Homo sapiens: one gene and its partner. The protein of the gene in region 2 interacts with the protein of the main gene of each other region in a biochemical or structural test. Each region holds a gene or a part of one and is shown on either strand. Other genes may lie near its edges. The genes, in order: NR2C2 and NR2C2AP.

Region 1 (3,812 bases), on a different chromosome or scaffold from region 2:
CAGGCAACAATCTGTGTTAGAGGCACCACTGAGCTGCAGGATGCCTGCTACTAAAAGCCTTCACAAGCAGAAATGAAACAAACCTGCCCTAATTCCATTGTCTCAGCTGGTTTTTTGTCTTAATTTTGAAACTGAAAACACATCAGGGTTAGAAAAGTAAAAATTACTTTAAGCTGGCAAAATTAAATCCTTTCCATCATTTTATAATGGCCACTCCCACTACTCTCCAAAATTTGCTGCCAAGGCAAGAATTATAAAATGATATAATTAAATCCAAACAAGAATTTAGAAGTTGGAAACACTGTTCCCACTTACCCTACTAACACTGACTTGCGTAAAGTGCTGCTAACCCTTCAGGATCAAGCATCCTGTTCTGCCTTGAGCCTGCAGCAGCTTCCATTCTGTCCAATGTGGCACCACAGGGGCGTCTGTAGCTGGCCAGACTGCACCCCTGTGGAGCACATGTGGCGCCAGCCTGAGCCAGATCAGAGCACCTGTGAGTCAGGGGAGTGTCCAGGGATCTTTTTGGATATCATCTGATTAACAAATCAAGAGAGGCAAATTTAACCCAACAGGGTGTATTTTCTTAATCTGGACTATTTAAAAAGCAAAAGACAAAGCAATTGACCGGGTCTTCCACATGCCACTGTTCTCAAACAGGAAAAGCTTGCTATATATTCACATCCGTGGGAATTTACGGGTGTTTGAAGTTAGACATAACTTCCTTTTAAGCGCATACTGTTCTTGCTGTAAACTCTGGTTGCTACAATTTATGAGGAGAAAGACTATCACCCTGGAAATTGAGGGTTGTTTTTAAGGAGCAAGCAGCCTGCATTTAAAATGCTCCGGGGTGGTCGGCTGGCACACACCTGGGGGAACCAAAGTGCACAGTGTGCTGGTAACATTAACAGACTTGCCAACAGAGATGCTGAGTCTATACACATTTTTAAAATCTCTGGTATTTAAGGTCAACAGGAAGAAATTGTCCTGAAACCTTCCATCCAGCTTTACCAGGCCCTAACCACTCTCGCCAGGCGGCAGCAGGCTCCTGCCCAGCCCCAATCCAGCCTCACAGTTATGATGGAGCTGCAGAAACACGAGCCCTTTTCAAGGGGGCATTTGGAGTGGAAAGCCCTGGGAAGGTAACGCTCACACTCCAAGGCCACACTCCTCCATCTGGACAAACACACAAGCACCCCCAATTGTATTGGAAGTACTGTCAAGAGCTCAAAATGCCCACCTTGCACTTTTTGGTCACAAGGCTCCATCTGCCACGAGCGGCGGATGTGACTTGGGGATGTTTTCACTTGCTGGAGGAACTGTACATCTCATTTGGCAGTTAATGTCTGACTAGTTGCAATCCAATTCAGATAACCAGTCATCAAAGGAGAACCCCAGGTTCTAGAGGAGTCTGCAGATGCCCATCAGAGACCAGGACCAAGTAGTCAGGGAACCTGACAAGTGTCTGCTCTATGGCTAGAAGCTTCTGAACTGGGTCACCACCGACTGTGCTACCACACTCCCACTTACTGCATGATGCAAATGAGCCACGTTTCCATTCACAGAATTCAGCTCAACTCCACAACATGTGCACACAATTAGGAATGATGCCTTCTTTTCTTAAACATAAATGATTGTCTCCTGTACCCTAGTGAGTTTTCACAGAAATCATTAGCATTTCGGCAAAAGACATACACAGTTTTCCATTTGCCCTGCCCACAGGCAAGATGTTGCTAACGTTACACATTGATAAGTGCTTAGAAAGTGCTAATATTATTACCCTGGTAATTAGTATCTATAATTCCAAGGACTTTTTTATATATATATATACACACATACTATTCTCTCAGGTTCTTTCAGTTTTCTTTAATACTAGTCTCTGACATTATAAAACCTTTTTTTTTGTTTTTTGCCCTTTGAGAATTTCTAAATACAAATTGAGTTAAAAGATTGTTCCAAAATCTGCTGCTTCATCAAAAGGCATTAAAACATTTCTTATGTCAGGAAAGGATCCTACTAGTCTTTTAATTGCTATTGTCTGGGATTAACAGATAAGGAGAAACCAGACAGGAAATGGCTAACATATGGAAATATTTGCACATACCAAAATACCACTACTTTTCTTTGTATGTGAACGGTCCTGGAAGGATTCTGTTGCTCCTTGGCAGGTGTGTGGTTTGCGCTATAGACTGGCTCCGGTGATCTGGCCATTATACTCTGCTGTCTCCATCTTGAGGATGTAGGGGATTATGCTGTCTATCGAAACATTGCCAATGAGACCAGTAAAAAAAAGTTCTTCTGTTATGTTGGAGCTCATCAGCCTGAGTGCCGGCAGGCGAACGAGGATCCGGGCCAATCTATAAAAGGGAGTGTCATTAGAAAAGGAGACTGTTTGATGCCCTTCAACCACAGCTCAGCAAAGGCTCCTGGGGTCCCGTCTGTATTGCACAGAATCAAACCAAACGGATCCACCATCCACCCACCTCTCTTTTCTGATTTCAACAGTTCCTCTTATAGAAATTTATCATGAGAAAAAACCAAATGAGTACAAAATGTATGTACAGATGTGTTCCCTTCACTCTTGTTTATTCCAACTCTCCTCACCCCCACCACCAAGAGAAAACCTGGAAATTCATCAACAGAGGACAGACTAAAGTAGGAGTCTTCATATGATGAACTGCTAGAGACTCATTTAAAAAACGATAATACAAACCTGTATTTACTGACCAGGAAAGACATCCATGACATATTGCTCAATAAAAGTTTAAAAGGAGATTATAAAACAGCAAGTATAGATGTGTATATAAAGTATTGGGAAAATGTTCACCACGCTAACAGTTGGGCTCTGGGTATTGGGATTTGAGGTGATTTTTTCTTATTTTTTGTACTGCTCTAATTTCCAGTGTTCATTTAGCATTATAAATAAAGCAGTAAAATAGCTTTCATTTTGAAGAAACTTGGGGTGGAGGGTGCACCACAATGCTGCCCTGGAGGGCCACTGAACACTGTGTATCTCAAGTGTCCCACGTGACCAGGCCATTCCCCAGCCAGGACTGGATCTCAGGTGAGCAAGTGGAGCATGTGCCAGGACTCTACTGCAGTGCCATGTGTGACAGCCCAAACCGGAAACACCCTACCTTTTCATTAGCAGGGAAATAGGAACCATAGAAAATGAAGAAGAGTACGTATTGTTATTGTATATTACATGAAAAAAGGTTACAAAACCTTTGGTATTTTATGATCCCAATTACAATACATAAAAAATTTCTGGAAGTGAATACGCAAAATGTTAATAGTAGGTATCTGGACAGTGCTTTTTTGTTTTTGTTTTTTTGAGATAGTGTCTTGCTCTGTCATCCAGGCTGCAGTGGAGTGATGTGATCACAGCTCACTGCAACCGCAACCTCCCAGGCTCAAGTGAGTCTCCCACCTCAGACTTCTGAGTAACTGGGACTACAGGTGCACACCACCGCACCTGACTAATTTTTCATTTTTTTGTCATAGAGATGGGGTCTCACTATGTTGCCCAGGGTGGTTTCAAACTCCTGGGCTCAAACAATCCTGCTGCCTCAGTGTCCCAAAGTGTTGGAATTACAGGTGTGAGTCACCACGCCCTGCCCCTGGATAGTGCTTTTTAAAAAGTTTTCTTTTTCCTTTTTCCTTTCTAGAACATTCTAAATTTTTCTAGAGTGAATACTGCTTATTTTTAAAATGGGAAAATGTATTCATACTATGCAGGTAGCATTCCAGCACCAGCATCCATTCACTCAGCCACAATGAGTCGCTGTGCTCCAATCTTGCAGGGCACACGA
Region 2 (4,090 bases):
GAGCTTGCAGGAGGTGTCTAGTGAATCAGTGAACCAAATCTTCAGCTTGGTATCTGAGGCTTTGTTTGGCAAACTCCTGTTCATGCTTCAAAACCCACCTCACAGCCTGGGTGCGGTGGCTCACACCTGTAATCCCAGCACTTTGGGAGGCCAAGGCGGGCAGATCACGAGGTTAGGAGTTCGAGACCAGCCTGGCCAAGATAGCGAAACCCCATCTCTACTAAAAATACAAAAATTAGCCAGGCATAGTGGTGCGCACCTGTAGTCACAGCTACTCAGGAGGCTGAGGCAGGGGAATCACTTGAACCTGGGAGGCGGAGGTTGCAGTGAGCTGAGATCACACCACTGCACTCCAGCCTGGGCAACAAAGTGAGGCTCCGTCTCGAAACAAAACAAAACAGAAACAACAAAAAACACCCGACCTCGCATGCTCCCTCCTCCAAGAAGCCTTCCTTGACGTCCCAGCAGCATTTTCTGGGAAAGACAAACTTGGAGGCCAGGGCTCCTCTGTCCCAACAAGAACAAAAAGGGTTGATGAGGACTTCAGATACTCCCAACATCGTGGCCTTTTCCACAACTCTGCCTTTGGCCTCCGGGAGGCAGTGAAGTTCGGGGATTCCCAGGCTGCATTTAGTGGTTAGGGTAGAGTAGGTTAGAGTAGGTTAGGGTAGCCGTTAGGGTAGAGTAGGTTAGAGTAGGAAGAAAGACATTGTCATAGGAAGTCTCTCTGGCCGGGCGCGGTGGCTTACGCCTGTAATCCCAGCACTTTGGGAGGCTGAGGTGGGCGGATCACTTGAGCCCAGGAGTTCGAGACCAATCTGGGCAACATGGCGAAACCTCATCTCTACCAAAAAACAAACAAACAAACAAACAAACAAAATAGCCTGCCGTGGTGGCGCGCGCCTACTAGTTCCAACTATTCGGGAAGCTGGGTAGGAGGATTGCTGGAGCCTGGGAGGCAGAGGTCGCAGAGAGCCGCGATCCCACCATTGTACTCCAGCCTGGGTGACAGTGAGACCCCACTTCAAAAAAAAAAAAAAAAAAAGGCCGGGCGCGGTGGCTCAAGCCTGTAATCCCAGCACTTTGGAAGCCCCGGCGGCTGGATCACGAGGTCAGGAGATCAAGACCATTCTGGCTAACACGGTGAAACCCCGTCTCTACTAAATATACGAAAAATTAGCCGGGCGTGGTGGCGGGCGCCTGTATTCCCAGCTACTTGGGAGGCTGAGGCAGGAGAACGGCGTGAACCCAGGGGGCGGAGCTTGCAGTGAGCGGAGATCGTGCCACTGCACTCCAGCCTGGGCGACAGTGAGACTCCGCCTCAAAAAAAAAAAAAAAAAAAGGAAGTCTTTCGGATTCCAAAATCAGTCAAAATCAGTGCTCTACACCTTCGGGCGCCGAGGGACAGCGCCCCGTGCGCGCAGCCAGCCTTTTCCCTACAGCTTCAAGGGAACCAAGGTAAATTCAATCATCGAACCCGGGCCCTTTAAGAAGCGAGCATGAAGGGGCGGGGTCGAACCAAACCCCACCTCTGGAGCGTCCGCGGTCGGCGCCTGAATTACAACACGCATGCGCCAAGCCCACGCGGTTCCGGGTCCCAAGATTTGGCTCCAAGAGCTATTCGCAGAGAAACAGCCTCGCACAAAAAGCCACCGCCCCCGAAACCCGCGGGAAATCTGTTTCCTGTGAAAGGCCTGGCCTCCGGGCATTGGCGGTTTCCCTGATCCTCTCTCCCAAATTTTCCGGCAGGGGATTGATCGAGGCGACATTTAGGACTGGGGTGGGCGAGGGAGTGGCGGTTCTCGTCCCAAGTTACAGGTGAGGACGTTCAGGCCAAGGCGTAGCCAAGATCGCGCCGCCCTGTAGCTTGAGGAGGCGCCGGGATTCGAACCAAGGCTGTGCCCAATCCTAAGCCCTGCGAGGTCTTGTGGAACCGACATGACCCACTCTTTGGTTTGTCCAGAGACAGTGAGCAGGTAAGAGTCTGTGGGGACAGGCAGTGGCGAGGCCCTAAGCCTGGGGTCGAGCCCTCAGTGGACAGATCTGGGGGTCAGGCCCTCCGCGGAGCTGAGAGCTGGTCTCAGCCCCTCTCTTCGCCTTGATCCTGGTGCCTCCAGGGTGAGTTCAGTGCTGAATCGCAACACTCGGCAGTTTGGAAAAAAACATCTTTTCGACCAGGATGAGGAGACATGTTGGAACTCAGACCAGGTGAGGCGCCTCCCTCGACCCTCCATCTCTAGGGTGATTCAGATTCAGATCTCATGCCTTGAGAACGTCAGGGGGCCCTCATGGGTGGCCAGGAAAGGAACATGTGCCGAATTTCCTTCTTCCCCTCCATTCCAAGAACTATGTGAATGAGACAGGCATAGCAGGGCTCTGTGCCTGCAGTGAGCTTGCGCCTCAGTTTCCCTGTCTGCTTCCAGGGCCCCTCCCAGTGGGTGACGCTGGAGTTTCCCCAGCTCATCCGTGTCTCCCAGCTGCAGATCCAGTTTCAGGGTGGCTTCTCCAGTCGCCGGGGCTGCCTGGAAGGTACTAGAAGGCCCTGGGTGGCAGGGGTTCCAGGGGTCACCCCAGACACTCATTGCCTTTCTCTGCTGAAGGTTCACAGGGCACTCAGGCTCTCCACAAGATTGTAGATTTCTACCCTGAGGACAACAACTCGCTTCAGATATCCTGCCCCTGCTTCTGGGGTGGGTGGTCTGTGCCTCTGGAAGCTTTGGACTCACCCAAACCCGAATGGGAACCCTGATGTGTGATCTTGAACACGTGACCTCTAGGACTCCACTTTTTCTGTAAAATGGTGCTGATGACCACCTGTTCTGTGTGAGAGGCTTAGAGGGACCTGCAGCTTCCCCAGGTTGCCCACATCGGTGGAGTGTGAGCTGGGTCTGGAAGGGGTGGGGGCCTGCGGGTGGGAAACCAGAAATCACCAGTTTCCCTTGACTGCCCACGCTCACACTTTCCCCATACCAGCTGCTGAAGTGGACCGGCTGAAGGTGACGTTTGAGGATGCCACTGACTTTTTTGGCCGTGTGGTCATCTACCACCTGCGGGTGCTTGGGGAGAAGGTGTGAGACCTCTAGGGGCTGTCTCCTCCAGGAAGCCCTCCGGGAAGCACAGCAAAGTCCCTCATTCTGCACAGAAGGTTTATTGGTTCCTCTTGGGAAGGGTCCCCTCCCACCACCTGTCCAGAAGCTGCCTTTGAAGTCAGTTCTGGGTTTCCCCAGCTCTGGCTGACCATTTTGTTCCCTGAGTGTCTGAGTCCCCGGCAGGCGGCCTTCACTCAGGGTCAGCGGGCACCAGGTTGCTCTGGAAGAGCTTGAGGATGTGGTTCTCGATCACCTGTTGCACTGAGATGGGGCAGGGAAAAGGTGGGCTGTGAGCTTGAATCGGGAGTGGGGTGGAGGCACAGGCCAACCTGCGCTCTCCCCTTAGGGGACAAACAGGGACCCTTGCAGAGACCTGCATTACAGAGCAAAGCTGGGAGAACCGAGGACTCACCCCAGGAACCTCAACTTCCCCTAAGTTTGTAAAAATGCACTTTTGTAGCTTTTCAGAATTAATATAAAAATATTTCCTACCAAGCAAAATGTGTGAATTGTGACTTTCATGAAAAGATGAGCCTGGGCATGGTGGCTCACACCTATAATCCCAGCACTTTGGGAGGTCCAGTGGGGAGGACTGCTTGAGCTCAGGAATTTGAGGCCAGCTTGGGCAACAGAGCAAAACGCTGTCTCTACCAAAAAAATTTAAAAATTAGGCTGGGCTTGGTGGCTCACACCTGTAATCCTAGCACTTTGGGAGGCCAAGGTAGGTGGATCACTTGAAGTCAGGAAAGGCCAGCCTGACCAACATGATGAAACCCCATCTCTACTAAAACTACAAAAATTAGCCAGGTGCAGCCGGGTGTGGTGGCTCATGCCTGTAATCCCAGCACTTTGGGAAGCTGAGGCGGGTGGATCACCTGAGGTCGGGAGTTTGAGATCACCTGACCAACATGGAGAAACCCTGACTCTACTAAAAATGCAAAAAATTAGTTGGGCATGGTGGTGCATGCCTGTAATCCCAGCTACTTGGGAGGCTGAGGCAG

What was found.
Region 1: the proteins of NR2C2AP (region 2) and NR2C2 form a complex in vitro, tested with the Homo sapiens proteins (one study listed by BioGRID).

Annotation. Positions count from the first base shown.
Region 1 is NC_000003.12:15,041,379-15,045,190, reverse strand, and holds part of NR2C2 (nuclear receptor subfamily 2 group C member 2), read right to left. Parts: exon of another isoform or gene 2,358-3,812; coding exon 2,183-2,357; 3' UTR 1-2,182. UniProt on the Homo sapiens protein: Orphan nuclear receptor that can act as a repressor or activator of transcription.
Region 2 is NC_000019.10:19,200,909-19,204,998, reverse strand, and holds NR2C2AP (nuclear receptor 2C2-associated protein), read left to right. Parts: upstream 1-1,584; 5' UTR 1,585-1,938; coding exon 1,939-1,976; intron 1,977-2,117; coding exon 2,118-2,208; intron 2,209-2,423; coding exon 2,424-2,529; intron 2,530-2,600; coding exon 2,601-2,668; intron 2,669-2,957; coding exon 2,958-3,074; 3' UTR 3,075-3,279; coding exon of another isoform or gene 3,280-3,350; 3' UTR 3,351-3,435; coding exon of another isoform or gene 3,436-3,525; 3' UTR 3,526-3,590; downstream 3,591-4,090. Other genes in the region: DNA-binding protein RFXANK, read right to left, coding at 3,280-3,350. UniProt on the Homo sapiens protein: May act as a repressor of NR2C2-mediated transactivation by suppressing the binding between NR2C2/TR4 and the TR4-response element in target genes.